Linked DNA regions of Homo sapiens: all the other regions are linked to region 1. Evidence: fine-mapped expression QTL. A gene starts in region 1. Each other region holds a variant in brackets. All regions are shown on one strand. Distances are between the middles of the regions. Region 1 holds the start of ODAD1 (outer dynein arm docking complex subunit 1). Region 2 overlaps TMEM143 (transmembrane protein 143). Region 3 has its middle 22 kb from the start of ZNF114-AS1.

Region 1 (5,876 bases):
GTTGAGAAAGCCTACTCTAGCCACATTCTGTCATCTCTGTAGAAACACCCTTCCTTCCTTCTCCCCTTGGCAATTCCTACAGGGAGTTCTGGGCCCCACTCAAACTTCTGCTGCCTGAAGTCTCCAGCCTGCCCCACTGCCCAGGCTTGGCCCACCCACCGTGGTGCCCGCCCCGCCTCCCTTAGGGCGCATGTCTGTTCCCACCAGAGGGCGCTCCTGGACAGACACTCTCCCTCCCTCCCTACAGGACCTGGAACTTGGGAAAGCTGGGGGCTGGAAAAGAATGGGTGAATGATATAAAGAATGAATGAATTACCCATTCCCTCCAGAAATGCCTCGCTTCCCTCCTCGGAGCGGGCGCTCCCTGCCAAGCGTCCCAAAGGCATCCTGGCCAAACAGGGTGGGGCTCCTGTAGGGATGGACATATAAGACCCTTCAGACAGCAGGCGGGCCAGGGCCCAGAGAGGGTGGACAATGAACTGCGAGGGACTGGGAATTGAAAGGGGGTGACCCTAGAACCACGCTGGCCTCATTCCTCCAAGAGGGGTTGGAGGGGGACCTCTCTCAGGCCTCTCCCACACCTCTCCAGCCCTCCCACCTCTCACACTCTGGGTCTTGCGTCTAGGCTCCGATTCTGGCGCGGGTTTGGCAGGGGACAGGCCTCCTGGGCTCTCAGGATATCTGAGGCCAGGCTGTTTGGTCGCAGGAGAGGGGGAAACCCCGGCCTGCTGTAGTGGGGGTTGGGCAGGGTCGGGGGAGTCCTGGGCCCTACCTGCCGACGGGCCTGACCTGTTCTTGGTGCTCCAAGTTCAGTGTTGTGGTCTGGTTACTGGGGAGATAAGGGACCAATGAGGACTGAGGACAGCGGCCAGGGAGGGACTGAGGCCGCGGGAGAAACTATGGGAGGAGGGGCGGAGAAGGATGCGAGGCGTAGACCTGCAGGGTTCCCACGGACTGAGAACTGATGGGCAAGGCCAGGCGCGGTGGCTCACGCCTGCAATCCCAGCATTTTGGGAGGCCGAGGCGGGCGCATCACTTGAGGTCACGAGTTCGAGACCAACCTGGCCAACATGGTGAAACCCCGTCTCTACTAAAAGTACAAAAAATTAGCCGGACATGGCGGCTCGTGCCTGTAATCCCAGCTACTCAGGAGGCTGGGGCAGGAGAATCGCTTGAACCCGGGAGGCGGAGGTTGCAGTGAGCCGAGATCCCGCCACTGCACTCCAGCCTGGGCGACAGAGCGAGACTCCGTCTCAAAAAACAAACAAACAAACAAACAAAACTGATGGGCGGCGAGGTCCTGAAAGGGGCGGAGCCGGGAGGGCCTGTGGAGCGGTGCTGCGGAGCCCTGAGAGGTGCACGGCTGTGAGGCCTGAGAGGGGCGTGCCGTAGGGAGCTGTGATGGGCGGGGCTGAGACCTGTGAGGAGAGTGAGTGGGAAGAACTTCGAGGGGCGGGGCTTCGGGGCCGGCGAGGGGAGGGGCACGGACACCAGTACAGGACGGGGCTTCGCAGACAGCGAGCGGAGGGGCTTCCCCGTAAGGGGCGGGCTTCGAGGGTCGCGTTTGGAAGGCCTTACGAGGGGCCCGGTGGAAGGGCGGTGAAGGGCGGGCTAATCGGGAGGCGCTCAGGCCTTGAAGGCCTGCGGGAGGTCGAAATGGTCCTGGGGAGGTCGAGGCTGAGGTCTCACTAGTACCGCGGGCCTGGAAGCGGCGGGAGTTGAAAGAGCCTGCGGTGACCTGTATGGAAGCCCTCGAAGCCAGGCCGAGGTCCTACAAGACGGAGCCCGAGAGGTGCCGGTCTTAAGCTGACTGTGACCACGTTAAATTAAGGATTCATAGGAAGGAAGGCGGTGTCGAAGCCGGGAGTTGCGCGGAGAAGGAGCGCTCAACACAGCCTCAGCGGTTCACTACGCAAGCGCGACCAACGGCTTCCCGGGAAGCAGCCAAAAACGCTTGGCCGCCTACCACGTCCGCGCGCTGGAGGGCGGAAGTGGGTGAGACCTCGGGCACTCCATACCGCCCCCCGGTTTCTGGCCACGCCCCCTCTGGTTACACCCACTCGCTCTGTAAGGCACGCCCCCTCCGCGGCGGCGGCTGCTGCCCACGTGGGCCTCCCCGGGCGGGCGGGCAGTGGGCGCCTCTCCCTGCAGGCTGGGTGTGCCCGAAGCCTGCGGTTTCCTGTGGGAGGAAGCGGCCTGCGTACGCTCAGCTCAGCTCATAATCTCGGAGGCCCAGGATGGGGAGATCCCGCCGCCACCCTCAGATCCTTTGATTCTTCCCCTTCTACATAGCCATAGTGCGGGGACCCCCCTAATATCCCCAGGGTACCCAAGCCTGGCGCCGATCCCACTCAGGGAACTTGATTCTGAGTCCTAGACTCGTGTTTTTCACCTCCCCGGCTCAAGTTTCCATCTTCCTAGCCCCTGGCTCCCCCTAGTCCTCTCAAGAAAGTGGAGCCCTCTTTTCCTGCTCCCCAAGAGGAACGTATGTCTCCCCAGCCCCTAATTTTTCCTTCAGTGACCCAGACTTTGCAACTTCCTTAGGGATCTGAGTGCGGACCCCAGTTTCTGTCTCTCAGGCACTTAAGTTTGAGACTACTTATTCTCCCCCAGGGACCCTCATTTTGGATTCCCAACTTTAGCCTTGAGACCCAATGGACCCAAGAATTTGCCCCTTCCCCAACTCCTAGAGATCCTGAATCAGGGTCCCCCAGTACTGACTCCACTCAGAGCCCCAATGCCTGATATGACTAGCACTACCCTAAGAACTGCCCTATAATGTATTTACTATTATCTCTATTTTTCAGATGAAGAGACTGAGGCATAGAGAAGTTATTAGTAACTTGCCAAAAATTACACAGCCATTGAGTAAAACAGCTTGGATTTTGAGTCCAACCAGTGTGGCTCTAGAGTCTGTGCTATACTGGTATTCCAGCTTCCAGGTCTTGGGGTACCCAGCCAAGCACTGAACTGTCCATCCCTCACCCCCTCAGGGAGCCCGAATCACCAACAGCTATCCCAAACCCAGCTCTGGCCCATCAGATACCCAGACATCCCATCATCCAGTTCCCTTCCCTGGATCCAGGATTTGAATTCCCCTGCTCTCAATTTATCAGAGTTCTGGGCACCTGGTCCCCTCCCAAGAGACTCGTGTACATAGTAGTCATCACCCCGACCCTAATTTAATATCCCCAAAATTAATAATAATAGTTAACAGTAAACCTTTGGGGCCAGGCACAGTGTCTTACGCCTGTAATCCCATCATTTTGGGAGGCCAAGGCAGGCAGATCACTGGAGGTCAGGAGTTCGAGGCCAGCCTGGCCAACATGGAGAAACCCCCGTCTCTACTAAAAATACAAAAATTGGCTGGGCGTGGTGGCGGGCACCTGTAATCCCAGCTACTCAGGAGGCTGAGGCAGGAGAATCGCTTGAACCGGGAGGTGGAGGTTGCAGTGAGCTGAGATCATGCCACTGCACTCCAGCCTGGATGACAGAGCAAGACTCCATCTCAAAAAAAAAATAAAAATCTTTGGTACTACACTCTGTTAAAACCTAATGGCTTTCCACTGCACTTAGAATGAAATCCAAGCCCCTCCCCTAGTCTTCAAGGGCACCCTTTGATTTCCCTTCTCACCACTCCCTCTGTCTCCCTGTGCTCCAGCCACACTGGCCCTTCTGTCTGCTCCCTAAACAACCTGAGCTTGTTCTCAAAAGCTTTAAGAGCTTTTGCACTTCCTCTCCCCCCGACGCCCCCCCACCACTCCCCAACCCCAGCGTTCAAATGACTCCTGTCTTCAGCTCAAATGTTACCTCCTCCAAGAGGCCTTCCCTGATTTTCCTGTTTCAAGTAGTCTTCCCTGCACTCTGTCATTATCTCCATCACTCTGTTTGATTTATTATTGTATTTATTTTTCTTTTCTTCTTTTATTTTTTTTTTTCTTTAAGATGGAGTCTTGCTCTGTCACCCAGGATGGAGTGCAGTAGCGTGATTTCAGCTTACTGCAACCTCCGCCTCCCGGGTTCAAGCAATTCTCCTGTCTCAGCCTCCTGAGTAGCTGGGTTACAGGCGCCCACTACCATGCCTGGCTAATTTTTGTATTTTTAGTAGAGACAGGGTTTCACCATGTTGGCCAGGCTGGTCTTGAACTCTCGACCTCAGGTGATCCTCCAGCCTTGGCCTCCCAAAGTGCTGAGATTACAGGCATGAGCCACCACGTCCAGCCTATTGTATTTATTTTTCAAGTCACTTATCCTTATCTGAGATTTATCTTCATCATTGATGTTTTCTCTTGTCTGTCTTCCTCTACTAGAATACAAGCTCCATAATACCAGCAGGGCTCATGTCTGTTTTCATTATTAACTCCCAGATCAGAGTACATGTTCAATAAATGTTTGATGAAGGAAGGAACAGGTTAGGTGTGTGAGTGTGCCAGTATTACCTTATTCATTCAGCATAAGTATCAGAATTATTATTATCAGTATTAGTATTTTGTCAGCATTATTATACTCTCAACATAGACTAAGATACTGGAGCCCAGGTGGGTGAAATAATTGGCTCAAGGTCACTGAACCAGGAAATGATGGCGCTGGGATTCTTAGCTTCCGCTTCCTCCCCGCTTCCAGAGTTTCACAAGGTTTTTTTTTTTGTTTGTTTGTTTTTTGTTTTGTTTTGTTTTTTTTTTGCGACAGAATCTCACTTTGTCCCCCAGGTTGGAAGGCAGTGGTGCAAACTCAACTCACTGCAGCCTCCACCTCTCGCGTTCAAGCGATTCTCATGGCTCAGCCTCCCAAGTAGCTGGGATTACAGTCGCCCGCCACCACGCCCGGCTAATTTTTGTATTTTTGATAGAGACGGGTTTCCACCATGTTGGCCAGGCTGGTCTCGAACTCCTGACCTCAGATGATCTGCCCGTCTCGGCCTCCCAAAGTGCTGGGATTACAGGCGTGAGCCACAACGCCCTGCCGAGTTTCACAAATTTCATCTCCCATCCTCTGACCCCCCACCACGGGGCCAACTTCACCAGCCCAATCTCAAGTCCATGCCACAGAAATCTGGCCTCTTTTCCCAGACTCCTATCCAGCTCCAAGCTCCATCAGGGAAAGCAGACATCCGGCCCCAGGGCAAGACCTCAAAACTCAAGGGTCCTGAGAATCGGGCCCTCCCACCCCTGACGCTTGCCCCCCCCAAGAACCCCATTCCAAGAGTTTCTCATCTCAACCCTGGGAGGGAGCCCCAGATGATGTCTGTCTGGAGGGATTGGGTGGGGGCCCAAAGAAAGAGGAACCGGAGTGCCTGGGCCCTCCCACTGGCAGCCGACCTCAGCTGGGTGCGGTGAGGGTGGGTTTATAAAAGGGTCAGTATATATTGAGAGGAGGAGAGAAAGAGAAACGGGAGCAAGAGAGAAGGAGGCCCAGACAGTGAGGGCAGGAGGGAGAGAAGAGACGCAGAAGGAGAGCGAGCGAGAGAGAAAGGGTTCTGGATTGGAGGGGAGAGCAAGGGAGGGAGGAAGGCGGTGAGAGAGGCGGGGGCCTCGGGAGGGTGAAAGGAGGGAGGAGAAGGGCGGGGCACGGAGGCCCGAGCGAGGGACAAGACTCCGACTCCAGCTCTGACTTTTTTCGCGGCTCTCGGTAAGTTTCCAGTCCGTTATTCAGGGCTGGGACTTCTTAATTTACTTGGGAATGTAGCAGTTTGGGAAGGACACCCCCAGGCTGGGAGAGACGTCCCTGACTCTTGGAAATCCTTTTAATTTAATAAGTGATCTCTTAGCACTTGAGGTGGGGATATGGGAAGGGGTGGGGCCCGGCAAAGTTTTGGGGTCCCAGCAGAGCCCTCCACTGGAAAACTTCCTGCAGTTTTTCCCTCAGCGGTGTCCACT
Region 2 (6,474 bases), 22 kb after region 1:
CATGTAGCAGAATCAAAAGGGAGCTTGTTAAAAATATAGTTCCCTGGGCCCCAGTCCCAGAGTTTCCAATTCAGTCCACTAGGACTGGAGCCCAGGAGGCTGCATTTGTCAGCCAGCTCCCCCAGTGATAATGATACCCAGTCAGGATGGGGACTTGGAACAAACAGCCCAATTAGTAATGATAATAATCATCATCCTGGTAATAGCTAACTCTCACATAGCACCTCCTGTGCCATGTGGGAGGCTCTATTCTCAGCACTGTGCATGTTAATTCATTTAATCCCCACAACACCTCTATGAGTTAGGTCCCACCATCATCCCTACTTTGCAGATTTTGAAGCTGAGACACAGAGAGGTTAAGCAACTTGTTCAAGATCACACAGCGAGAAGAGAGTAGAGTCAGATTCAAATCCAGGAAGTCTGCTTCCAGAACACACCCCCTTCACCGCATCACTAAAGCGCCCCTAAAGCCGGCACTCAGTGAGCGGCTGTCAACCCTTATGTAGCCCCTACCACGAGCCGAGCACTGCCCAGTGCTTCTCACAGACTCACTCATTTCATGCTCACAACCCTACAAGGCAGATCTCGCTATCATCCCCATTTTCCAGATGAGAAAACTGAGGCTCAGAGAGATTAAGAAACCCCCCTAAGGGGTGTTGAGTAAATGAAGTAGGGAAGGGAAGGGGAAGGGAGGGGAGCGGAGGAGAGGGCAAGAAGGGAGGGAAGGGAGAAAGGGAAGGGGGGAGGAAGGAGGTGGGGAGAGGGAGGGAAGGGAAGGAAAAGAGGAACAGGAAGGAAGGGAGGGAGGGAGGGGAAGGGGAGGGGAGGGGAGAGGAGGGGAGGCGGAAGGAAGGGGAAGAAGGAAGGGAAGGGAAAGGGGAAAAGGAAGGGGAGGAGAGAGAGGGAGAAAGGAAAGAAGGGAGGAAGGGAGGGAGGAAGGAAGGAAGGACAGGGAGGGAAGGGAAGGGAAAGAAAAGAGGAAGAATGGGAAGGAAGGAAGGACAGGGAGGGAAGGGAAGGGAAAGAAAAGAGGAAGAATGGGAAGGAAGGAAGGGAGGGAGGGAGGGAGGAGAGCATGACGCAGGAACAATGCATGAAACAGAGACAACTACAGGGGGCCTGACCTGGTCCCCACAGCGCAGGGCCGCAGGAGGCGTGGCAGGCGCATGCTCACCTTGGAGGCCCGCAGGCCCATGAAGATGGCGAAGAGCAGCAGCAGCAGGGAGGTGGCCACCTTGAGGTCGGTTAGCACCACCATGCCCACGTTGACGAAGATCGCCACGCCGGAGACTACCAGCATGAGGTTGAGCAGGGCGCGCTGCAGGGTGGGCGTGCGCACCTTCAGCTCCGGCAGCAGCTGCTCCAGGCCTTCCAGCGGCGTGTCCTTGAAACTCTTCAGTACCAGGTGTCCCCGTTTGGTCCGGGCTGCCAGGACCACCCGCTTAAAGTATCTCCTGAGGGACAGAGACAGAGGCAGGAGCAGGATCGGGACTGCACTGCCCGGGGAGCCCCCTCCAATCCTAGGACGCTCACTCTGGCTCTACAGTCGCACAACCATCTTAAAAGCGACTCAGTAATCATGGGGAAGAAACCAGGGATCAGCTGTGTCCAACCACAGGGGATCGGTTCAATCGCGCCATCGATCCCTGGTATTGGACGTGCAGATTGTTTGTTGGAATCCTGGCCGTGCCGCATCTTCAGAATGTGGACCTCCCTCTCCGAGCCTCAGTTTTCCTTATTGGAAAATGGGGAGAACTGTCCCCATCCTTTCTCTTCCCCTGGGAATCAAGTGTAGTACTCACTTTCCCTTGAGAAGAAAAGACAGCATTTGGATGAGTCACGCCTCCCATTTCTCAACTTCCCGCCTGGGGCCCAGACACCCAAACCAGACACTGACCTGTCAGTCCCCTCTTGACTCTAACCTTGCTCCCTCTTGCTGCAGCTGGGGAACAAGGGCCGCCTCACCTCTCCGCAGGGGGCAGCTTGGTGAAGAAGCCACGCCTGGAGCCCACGCTGGACTTCAGGGGCATCTGCCCGACTCGCTGGCCCAGGGCCCAGAAGTGAATGTAGACATACTGATCCAAATTTACTGTCACCTGCCGGGGGGATGAAGGAAGCAGTGGCGGGTGAACATGGGCAGGAGTGTTGAGGGCAGGATACCAGAATCAGATGTCCTGCCCCTAAATAATTCCCCCGTTTCCCACTTATCCCCATTCACCATCTAGGCAGGGCTGTCACATATGGTTGTCCATGTCGTATACTGCACAAGGGCTCATGATCTAACACAGTGCCATTCACGTAGAAGTCATCTTTACCATATTTCCTAGAATCTAAGGTGCCACTGACTCTACCTGATTATTTTATGAAGCAACTAAAAACAAAATACGTTGCCAATTAAATGATGTCACACCACCACCTGTAAATTACATCCCAATTTCAGAGATGACAAAACATGACTTTGGAAAAACTGCAGTTTAAAATCACTAAAATGTGGAATTTGGGGAGATTTTAGTATTTTTTATTTCTGTTTTTATTTTTATTTCTATTTTGAGATATTGTCTCACTCTGTCACCCAGGCGGGAGTGCAGTGGCACAATCTCAGCTCACTGCAGCCTCCACCTCCTGGGTCCAAGTGATTCTCGTGCCTCAGCCTCCCAAGTAGCTGGGACTACAGGCACCCGCCACCATGCCTGGCTAATTTTTGTATTTTTAGTAGAGATGGGGTTTCACCATGTTGGCCAGGCTAGTCTCAAACTCCTGACCTCAAATGATCTGCCTACCTCAGCCTCCCAAAGCACTGGGATTATAGGTGTGAGCCACTGCACCCAGCTGATTTTAGTATTTCTTATAATTTTGTTAGCATTTTGCGTGCTTTTAGGGGCTTGGTTTTTTTTTTCTTTTTTAATGTGTCTCTCTGTGTGTGTGTGTTTTGTTTTGTTTTTTTGAGACAGGTTCTCAATTTGTCATCCAGGCTGGAGTGCAGTGGCAAGATCATGGCTGACAGCTCACTGCAGCCTTAAACTCCTGGGATCAAATGATCCTCCCACCTCAGCCTCCCGAGTAGCTGGGACTGCAGGCCCGCACCACCATATCCAACTAATTTTTGTATTTTCTGTAGAGACGGGGTCTCCCTGTGTCGCCTAGATGAGTCCGGAACTCCTGGGCTCGAGCGATCCTCCTGCCTC[G/A]GCCTCCTGAATGCTGGGATTACAGGAATGAGCCACTGAACCCGGCCTTGTATTATATTATTTATTATTACAATTTTGGCAGATGGTGCTAAGTCTCTTGCCCTAAGAGAGCCATATCATATGATACTTTTCCAACAGATGGCAGTGAAGTGACCTGAGACAGCAGCACCTCCTTTTTTTTTCCAGATGGAGTTTCACTCTTGTTGCCCAGGCTGGAGTGCAATGGCACGATCTCAGCTCACTGCAACTTCCACCTCCCGGGTTCAAGAGATTCTCCTGCCTTAGCCTCCCCAGTAGCTGGGATTACAGGCACCTGCCACCATGCCTGGATAATTTTTTATATTTTTAGTAGAGATGGGGTTTCACCATGTTGGCCAGGCTGGTCTTGAACTCTTGACCTCAGGTGATCCACCCACCTTGGACCCCCAAACTGCTGGGATTACAGGCTTGAGCCACTGCATCCAGCCAAAAGTAGCCCCTTCTCTGAGTTCACCAAGTGCGCCATATGGGCCACAGTCCCAGGCTCAGGACTACAACTCCCAGCAGCCCATGCCTCTCAGAGGCTCTGCCCCACCCTAGAGGCCTCCTGGGAGTTTTGTTCTCCTAGGGAGCCAAGTACCTGGACCTCATCCTGAGGGTGGTGGACCACCAGCGCGTAGGCCAGGGTGTCCTCAGACAGCGGGGAGAAGTTGGCCTGGGCCAGCAGGGGCTCCAGAGCCCGAAGCACCTCCTGCTCATTAGACAGACGCTGGGGATCCGTTAGTGATGGCTGATCGAGGGTCTCCCTGTCAGGGTTGATGGGGTCATATAAGGCCTAAGAGGAGAGTCAGAGAGAAAAAGATGGGATAGGTCTCTGCATGAAGGATTCTAGGGACATCTAAGGACATCCCTCTCCAGATACTTTCATTTATTTATTTATTTATTTATTTATTTTATTGAGATAGAGTCTCGCTCTGTTGCCAGGCTGGAGTGCAGTGTCACGTTCTCCGCTCACTGCAACCTCCACCTCCCGGGTTCAAGCAATTCTCCTGCCTCAGCCTCCCAAGTAGCTGGGACTACAGGCGCACGCCACCATGCCCGGGTAATATATATATATATTTTTTGTATTTTAATAGAGATGAGGTTTCACTGTGTTGCCCAGGCTGGTCTTGAACTCCTGAGCTCAGGCAATATGCCCGCCTCGGCCTCCCAAAGTGCTAAGATTACAGGCATAAGCCACCGTGCCCGGCCTGTGTTTTTTTGTGTTTTGTTTTTGTTTTTTTGAGACGGAGTCTCGCTCTGTCGCCCAGGCTGGAGTGCAGTGGCACAATCTCAGCTCACTGCAACCTCCACCTCCTGGGTTCAAGCGATTCTCCTGTCTCAGCCTCCTGAGTAGCTGGGATTACAGATGCACGCCACCATGCCCGGTTAATTTTTGTATTTTTAGTAGAGAAGGGGTTTCACCATGTTGGTCAGGCTGGTCTCGAACTCCTGACATGTGATCTACCCACCTCGGCCTCCCAAAGTGCTGGGATTACAGGCATGAGCCACCTTGCTCAGCCCTTTTTTCTTTTTCTTTCTCTTTTTTTTGAGATGGAGTCTCGCTCTGTCACCCAGGCTGGAGTACAGTGGTGCAATCTCAGCTCACTGCAACCTCCACCTCCCAGGTTCAAGCAGTTCTCCTGCCTCAGCCTCCTGAGTAGCTGGGATTACAGACACATGCCACCACATTCAGCTAATTTTTATATTTTTAGTGGAGATGGGGTTTCACTATGTTGGCCAGGCTGGACTCGAATTCCTGACCTCAAGTGATGCAACCACCTCGGCCTCCCAAAGTGAGATTACAGACATGAGCCACTGTGCCCAGCAGATTCTTTTCTTATCACACCCATATCCAATCCTCTGGCAAGTTCACTTGCTAAACCCCTGAATCTTCTTGAATCCACCCTCCTCTCTATCTCCTTTGCTGCTATCTTCTCACTGAAGCCACCTTCATCTCTCACTTAAACAATTATGTAGGGCTTCTGTTCCCCAACTTTTACTCTTACTACTTTCTTTTTATTTATTTATTTTTTTGAGACAGAGTCTCACTCTGTTGCCCAGGGTGGAGTGCAATGGCATGATCTCAGCTCACTGCAATCTCCACCTCCTAGGTTTAAGTGATTCTCCTGCCTCAGCCTCCCGAGTAGCTGGGACTACAGGTGCCCACCACCACGCCTGGCTAATTTTTGTATTTTTAGTGGAGATGAGGTTTCACCATGTTGGCCAGGCTGGTCTCGAACTCCTGACCTCAAGCGATCCCCCCACCTCAGTCTCCCAAAGTGGTGGGATTACAGGCGTGAGCCATCGCACCTGGCCTACTCTTGCTACTTTTCAACCAGTATCCACATGGCCATTGGGAAGAACTTACTGAGGCTGTAAACAGCTCCCACAATCCACCCCTCCAACAGCTTCCCACTGTATTTAGAATAAAATCTAGAAGCTTTCCGTGATGTTCAAGTTCCCTCACAAACTGGCATCTAACCTGCCTGCCTCATCTTATGTCCCTAAACGTCCCCCCTAAAAAACTCTTGGAATGAATGTCGCGTGAGTTTCCAGTTGCCTAGCCTATTTTGCTCACGGAGAGACTGAGTCTCAGGATGACATATAACTTGTCCCAGACTCTACAACAGCCTCCAAGGAAATCACCCCTCTATAAAACCAGATCATAAACCTAACCCTCCATGTGTCTCTTGGGAGCAGGGGTCCTATGAAGCAGCTTGTTCAGGCCAGGTGCGATTCTGAATTAGTGGAAGGAGAGAGGGCCGGTTCTCCAAGTGGGAGGAATGGCCTAAGTGAAGGTTTGGTCATGGGGAAGCCCAGGGCCTCAGAAACAACTGAGCAAGGAGACTGGGATGCAGAAGAGATTCAAAGGCCGGCACAGTGGCTCACGCCTGTAATCCCAACACTCTGGGAAGCCAAGGTGGGAGGATCACTTGAATCCAGGAGTTTGAGACCAGCCTTGGCAACACGGTGAAATCCTGTCTCTACAAAACTTTTTTTTTTTTTTTTTTTTGAGACAGAGTCTCGCTCTGTTGCCCAGGCGGCAGTGCAGTGGCATGATCCCAGCTTACTGCAACCTCTGCCTCCCAGGTTCAAGCGATTCTCCTGCCTCAGCCTTCTGAGTAGCTGGGACTACAAGCGAGCACCACCATGCCTGGCTAATTTTTTGTATTTTTAGTAGAGACGGGGTTTCACCATATTGGCCAGGCTGGTCTCAAACTCCTGACCTTGTGATCCACCTGCCTTGGCCTCCCAACGAGCTGGGATT
Region 3 (6,232 bases), 30 kb before region 1:
GTTGCAGTGAGCTGAGACTGCGCCACTGCACTCCCGTCTGGGCGACGGAGCGAGATTTCGTCTCCAAAAAAAAAGGAAAAGAAAAGAGAAACGCCACTGGTAAGAGCAGAGGTCCTCCTAGGCGCGCATTCTGCATGGCCCCAGCACTGTTAAGTTCAGCTTTCAGTGTTTGGGGAAGACCTGCAGGTCAGGGACCCCCACTGTGGCTGAGGGGGCTCAAGCTTGGCCCTTTCTCCCGGACCCCTGCTGCCTGCGTTTCCCAGCAATCTGCTGCTTTATCCTAGAATCTGGGTGACTCATGGCCCTCCCCATCCTGGAAGGAATGAAGAGGAGGAGGGGAGGCTGCTATGCCAGGACAGTCCCAGACCTTGCCAAGGGGCCTGGGTCCACTCCCACCCCCAGGGAGCGCTGTGCGGAGGAAAAGGACCATGGCTGAAATCAGAATCCCTGGATTCAACCGGGGGTGGAGGGGGCCGGGGCGGGAGGGGGGAAACATCTGTAGCTGAGGGAACACCCCTCCCGCCTCCAGTCGCTGAGGCTGAACTTAGCCGACTTTGGGGATTCCCCACCCTCTACCCCCAACTGGTCCTCAATTCTCACAGATGTAAACTGAGAATTTTCAACAATCGTTTTGGCAAACATACGCCAGGCCCCCTTCTGAGCGCTTTGCACCTATTAACTCATGCAACGCCTGCAACGCTATGAAGTGGCTGCTGTTATCACTACCATTTTACAGTGGGGGGAACTGAGGCACAGCGAGGCCAAGCACGATGCCCAAGATCACACAGCCAGCAGGTGGCCGGGAGGGGCTCGACCCCGTGCTGTCAGGCACCAGAGACTCGGCTCTTCAGCCCCAGGCCAGAGCCTCCCTGCACTGACGGGGTCGCGAATTCGGGCAGGAGGGTTCGTGTGTGTCCTCACCTCTGGGACGCGAGCTCCGGGGACGGGGGACCTCGTCTGGCGTGGGAGGCATTTAGTGAGCGCCGTGGACTGAAGCCGGGACGGTCTTAGGAGAACCACTTCCCTTCTTGGCCGCCTGAAACCCCCTACAGGGTTCTGCTTCTGGAACTGCATTCGAGGTCAGAGTTTCTAGTACGAGTAAAGCGGATCCTCGGGAAGAGACCCGACCAGAAGGAAATCGCCGTCTTGGAAGATCTAAGTCCGGGATGGAACAAAACCCACTCCGGGCGGGGGGAGCGCGCCACCTGGCGGCGGATCCTGCTAAGGCAGCGCCGCCCGGAGACCAGAAACGTTGGATTTGGGCAGTGGGCCGAGGTGGTTGGAATTGGCGAATGGGCAGTTGTCTGAAAATCATTGTGTGAAACTAAGGACTGTCTACCAGTGGCTTCCAAAATTCTGACGCACAGTAAGAAATCATTTTGCGTCAGCATTTTTTTTTTTTTTTTTTTGAGACAAGGTCTTGCTCTGTTGCCCAGGTTGGAATGCAGTGGCACGATCTCGGCTCACTGCAAACTCCACTTCCAGGGTTCAAGCGATTCTCCTGCCTCAGCCTCCTGAGTAGCTGAGATTACAGGCGCCCGTCACCGCGCCTGGCTAATTTTTTATTTTTAGTAGAGATGGGGTTTTACAATGTTAGCCAGGCTGGTCTCGAATTCCTGGCCTCAAGTGATCTGCCCGCCTCGGCCTCCCAAAGTGCTGGGATTGCAGGCATGAGCCACCGTGCCTGGCCGCATCAGCATACTTTTACAAAAGAATACCACCCTCTATAGCCAACAACAATGGATTGTATACTTCAAAATAGCTAGAACATTTTGCATGTTTCACCGCAAAGAAATGGCAAGCATCTGGGATGATGGATTTGCTAATAACCTTGATTTGATCACTGCACAATTTATATATGTATCAAAACATCACGCCGCATCCTATAAATATGTACAATTAAAAACAAAATTTAGGCCGGCTGCAGTGGCTCATGCCTGTAATCCCAGCACTTTGGGAGGCCGAGGTGGGTGGATCACCAGGTCAGGAGTCCCAGACCAGTCTGGCCAAGATGGTGAAACCCCATCTCTACTTAAAAAAAAAAAAAAAAAAAAATTTGCTAGGTATGGTGGCGGGCACCTGTAATCCCAGCTACTAGGGAGGCTGAGGCAAAGAACTACTTTAACCCGGGAGGCAGAGGTTACAGTGAGCCGAGATCGCGCCACTGCACTCCAGCCTGGGTGACAGGGCGAGACTCCGTCTCAAAAAAAAGAAAATTTTAGTTTTAAAAATACCACCCTGTATTACACGGCCCTGTATTACACGATGCTTTATATTCCACTCTATTCCTTTTTTTTTTTTGAGACAGAGTGTCACTCTATCACCCAGGCATGATCTCGGCTCACTGCAACCTCTGTCCCCCAGGTTCAAGCAATCCTCCTGCCTCAGCCTCCCTCAGCCTCCTGAGTAGCTGGGATTACAGGCTCCCGCCATCATGCCCAGCTAATTTTTGCATTTTTAGTAAAGACGGGGTTTCACCATGTTGGCCAGGCTGGTCTCGAACTCCTGTCCTCAGGTGATCCGCCTGCCTCAGCCCCCCAAGGTGCTGTGATTACAGGCATGAGCCACCAGGCCCGGCCTATTCCTATTTTTAAATGCTGGTCAGGTCACCTTAAAATGGTTTCCTGACTCTCTAAGGGTCTGGGATAGGGTTTTCCACTGTTCTAGATTATCCCCATGTTTTTTCACTTGACAGAGATTATGATGAGGAACCGGTTACACCCACGCTACCTCCCAGTGAGCCTTCCCCACCACACAAAGCTGCCTCCAGGATTCGCTGCCAGCTCTGATGTCAGGATGAGTAACAGCTCAGGATGCTGAAGACACTGGCCCAAGACCACACAGCCTGGATGTGGCAGTGCCTGTTTCTGCCTCACTCCTGGAGGAGGAAAATGATTAAATACCCGTAATTTCACTGCTATTGAGTACAATTTAATTCATCCTTCCTCCACTTTGGCTGATAAGATTGAGCTGCACTCACCTGCTGTTCTCTTAGGCTGTAGCATAAGGCATTCCAGAGGTCAAACTTTAAAATGTCTTTTTCACTTTGGGAGGCCAAGGCGGGAGGATCACTGGAGGCCAGGAGTTCGAGACCAGCCTGGCCAACATGGTGAAACCTCCATCTCTACAAAAAATACAAAAATTAGCCGGGCGTGGTGGCACACA[T/C]CTGTAGTCCCAGCTGCTCAGGAGGCTGAGGCATGAGAATCACTTGAACCTGGGAGGTGGAGGCTGGAGTGAGCCAAGATTGCACCACTGCACTCCAGCCTGGGCAACAGAGCAAGACCCTGTCTCAAAAAAATAAAAAATCAAAAATCTAGGTTGAATTCTCAGGTGTCTCTAAAGTGGCCTTCGATGTATTCTGCGCTGGGTGCTGCAGGGTTGACCATCTAAAAGTGGCGAGCCCAGCCCCAGTCCAGGGGAAGGTAGAGGAAGTGAACCTGCTCATTGTAGGACTAGGACCCTTGAGGTGACAGAGAGCTGTGGTTAGCCTGAGTCCATCGCACTGTGGTGGTCTATGAGGCCGCTTTGCAGGGGCAGCAAATCAGAAGGCTCGGTCTGCTGTGCTTACTCTGCTATCTTTGGAAGGAAAGAGGAGGAAATCGCTCCGAAATGGGAGATAGGGCTGGTGGTCACGACTCAGCTCCACACCAAGATGAGACTTCCTGGGCCCCCAGGGAGGAAGAATAGCAGTTCCACTGCCAGGAGCCACGCCTCAGAGGAGCTGCCTTTCCACCTCCCTCCTGAAATGCCATTTTCAAATTTCTCCTTTACTCTTCCATCCCCAGAACCTAGTACAATATATGGCACATAGTACATGCTCAATAAATATTTATCAAATTAATGAGAAAAGATATGTGGATGTCCCCTCCTGTGCAGCTGTAAGGGGAGAAATAGAGTTCTTTTTTTTTTTTTTTAACTTTCCTACACCAGTTTTATTTAAAACACAAAAATAAGTATTTCTCTTTCTGTAAGGAAAAATGGCTCAAATATTGCTGAACACAGGCCAGACTCAGTGGCTCACGCCTGTATTCCCAGCACTTTGGGAGGTCGAGGTAGGAGCACACTTGAGGTCAGGGGTTCGAGACCAGCCTGGCCAACACGGTGAAACCCCCATCTCAAATACAAAAAAAAAAAATTAGCCAGGCATGGTGGCAGGTGCCTGTAATCCCAGCTACTTGGGAGGCTGAGGCAGGAGAACTGCTTGAACCCAGGAGGCGGAGATTGCAGTGAGCTGAGATTGTGCCACTGCACTCCAGCCTGGGCGACAGAGCGAGACTCCGTCTCAAAAATAAATAAATAAATAAATAAATAGAAAGAAAACACTACACTCCTTTCCATCTTTATCGCTGTCCTGCTAATAGTCACATGTAGTTCTGAGCATTTACTACTTGCCAGGTACTGTTCTGAGGCTTTCTGTGTATCAGTTCATTTTATTCTCACACAAACAAGTATGTACTATTATCAAGCCATTTTATTTATTAATTTATTTATTTTCTGAGATACAGCTTCACTCTTGTCTCCCAGGCTGGAGTGCAGTGTCATGGTCTCGGCTCCCTGCAACCTCCGCCTCCCAGGTTCAAGAGATTCTCCTGCCTCAGCCTCCGGAATAGGTGAGATTATAGGCATGTGCCACCACACCCGACTAATTTTTGTATTTTTAGTAGAGACGGGGTTTCACCATGTTGGCCAGGCTGATCTTGAACTCCTGACCTCAGGTGATCCGCCAACCTTGGCCTCCCAAAGTGCTGGGATTACAGGCGTGAGCCACCACGCCCAGCCACTGTTCTAAGGCTTTGTGTATAAATTCATCTTATTCTCACACAAAAAAGTATGCACTATGATCAAGCCATTTTAAGGGGAGGCTCAGGGTGCTACCTGGATTAGGAAGGTGGATGATAGATTATCTGTTTGGATTTGAACTTTTTTTTTTTTTTGAGACACTCTCACTCTATTAACCAGGCTGGAGTGCAGTACCATGATCTCGGCTCACTGCAACCTCCGCTTCCCAGATTCAAGCAATTCTTGTGCCTCAGCCTCCCGAGTAGTTGGGAAGACAGGTGCACATCACCATGCTCTGCTAATTTTTGTATTTTTAGTCGAGACAGGGTTTCGCATGTTCACCAGGCTGGTCTTGAACTCCTGGGCTCAAGTGATCCACCCACCTCGGCCTCCCAAAGTGCTGGGATTACAGGCGTGAGCCACCACGCCCAGCCTGAATTTTTAGAAGTTTTTATATAGCTTTGATACCAATGGATTAAATTTTGACAGGGCATTTGGCATGACTCAACTACAGGAAAGAGTTATCAAGGTGTTCTAAGCCCTCTCACTCCTACACCCACCCCCGCTGCAGGAAAGGGCCAAAGTCAGCTTTTTCTCTGTGACCCTGTGGCTGGAGTTAGGGCTGTCCATAAATAATCCTTCCTTTCTCTCCTTCCAGGCACATGAAAAGACTGCGCTTCCCGGCGACCCTTTGAAGTTCGGCGTAACCTGCTGACCCGCTCTGGCTGAGTGTGAGCTAAGAGGACAGGTGTCATATCAGGTCCAAGCCTCGAGAGTCACTGCCTGCTGTGCCATCCTCTCTTCTTCCCGTGCCAAAGGACTGGCAGCACTCCAGTGATGGCTGTGCCATGGGCCCGGGGTACACGAGTGATATGGAGCGGAGCGCTCAGCTGGCCCACAAAGGAGAGAAAACTCTGCTGCCTGAGGACCACAGAGAATCTGCAGCTGTGACTGCAGCACAGCCCAGCCTGCCCTGACCAACATAGCTCCAAGAGAGCCAGACACGTGGATCTCAGAGAAATGGATGAATAGGCTGGGTGCGGTGGCTCACGCCTGTAATCCCAGCATTTTGGGAGGCTGAGGTGGGCAGATCACCTGAGGTCAGGAGTTCAAGACCAGCCTGGCCAACATGGTGAAACCCCATCTCGACTAAAAATACAAAAATTAGCCGGGCGTGGTAGTGGGCACCTGTAATCCCAGCTACTCGGGAGGCTGAGGCAGGAGAATCACTTGAACCCAGGAGGCGGAGGTTGCAGTGAGCCGAGAACGTGACACTGTACTCCAGCCTGGGCAACAAGAGGGAAACTTCATCTCAATAAATAAATAAATAAATAAATAAATAAATAAGAACGCTGAATGAGTGAGTGAATGAATGAATGAATGAATGAATGGCAGGGAATCGGGACAGGGTCACAGATTACCCCCAGGCTGGAGGTAGAGGAAGCAGCCATGG

Evidence for each region. PIP is the estimated chance that this variant, and not a neighbour inherited with it, causes the effect.
Region 2: its variant is the best candidate, but not a certain one, in a credible set for the expression of ODAD1 in nucleus accumbens (GTEx, PIP 0.54).
Region 3: its variant is the best candidate, but not a certain one, in a credible set for the expression of ODAD1 in prefrontal cortex (BrainSeq, PIP 0.74).

What each region holds. Positions count from the first base shown.
Region 1 is chr19:48,319,983-48,325,858 of GRCh38, forward strand. ODAD1 (outer dynein arm docking complex subunit 1) reads right to left here and starts at 1,989. Exons shown (of 16, transcript NM_001364171.2): 1 at 1,696-1,989; 2 at 790-829; 3 at 317-409. The coding sequence starts at 386. It overlaps LOC124904735 (a long non-coding RNA gene), which reads left to right and starts at 1,486. Exons shown (of 2, transcript XR_007067284.1): 1 at 1,486-1,995; 2 at 2,808-3,540. It overlaps EMP3 (epithelial membrane protein 3 (MAM blood group)), which reads left to right and starts at 5,570. Exons shown (of 5, transcript NM_001425.3): 1 at 5,570-5,628. RefSeq lists enhancers at 30-324, 1,604-1,843, 1,850-2,144, 2,364-2,423, 2,434-2,493 and 1 more and silencers at 1,374-1,493, 1,964-2,253, 4,585-4,816.
Region 2 is chr19:48,341,356-48,347,829 of GRCh38, forward strand. It overlaps TMEM143 (transmembrane protein 143), which reads right to left. Exons shown (of 8, transcript NM_018273.4): 4 at 3,805-3,999; 5 at 1,966-2,096; 6 at 1,175-1,454. Among named protein-coding and RNA genes, the nearest start is that of EMP3, 19 kb to the left of the region's middle. RefSeq lists enhancers at 802-1,302, 1,303-1,803. The variant G/A (reference allele first, on the strand shown) is at 3,186.
Region 3 is chr19:48,290,219-48,296,450 of GRCh38, forward strand. No RefSeq gene overlaps it. Among named protein-coding and RNA genes, the nearest start is that of ZNF114-AS1, 22 kb to the left of the region's middle. RefSeq lists enhancers at 919-968, 989-1,038, 1,156-1,804, 5,084-5,585, 5,586-6,085. The variant T/C (reference allele first, on the strand shown) is at 3,166.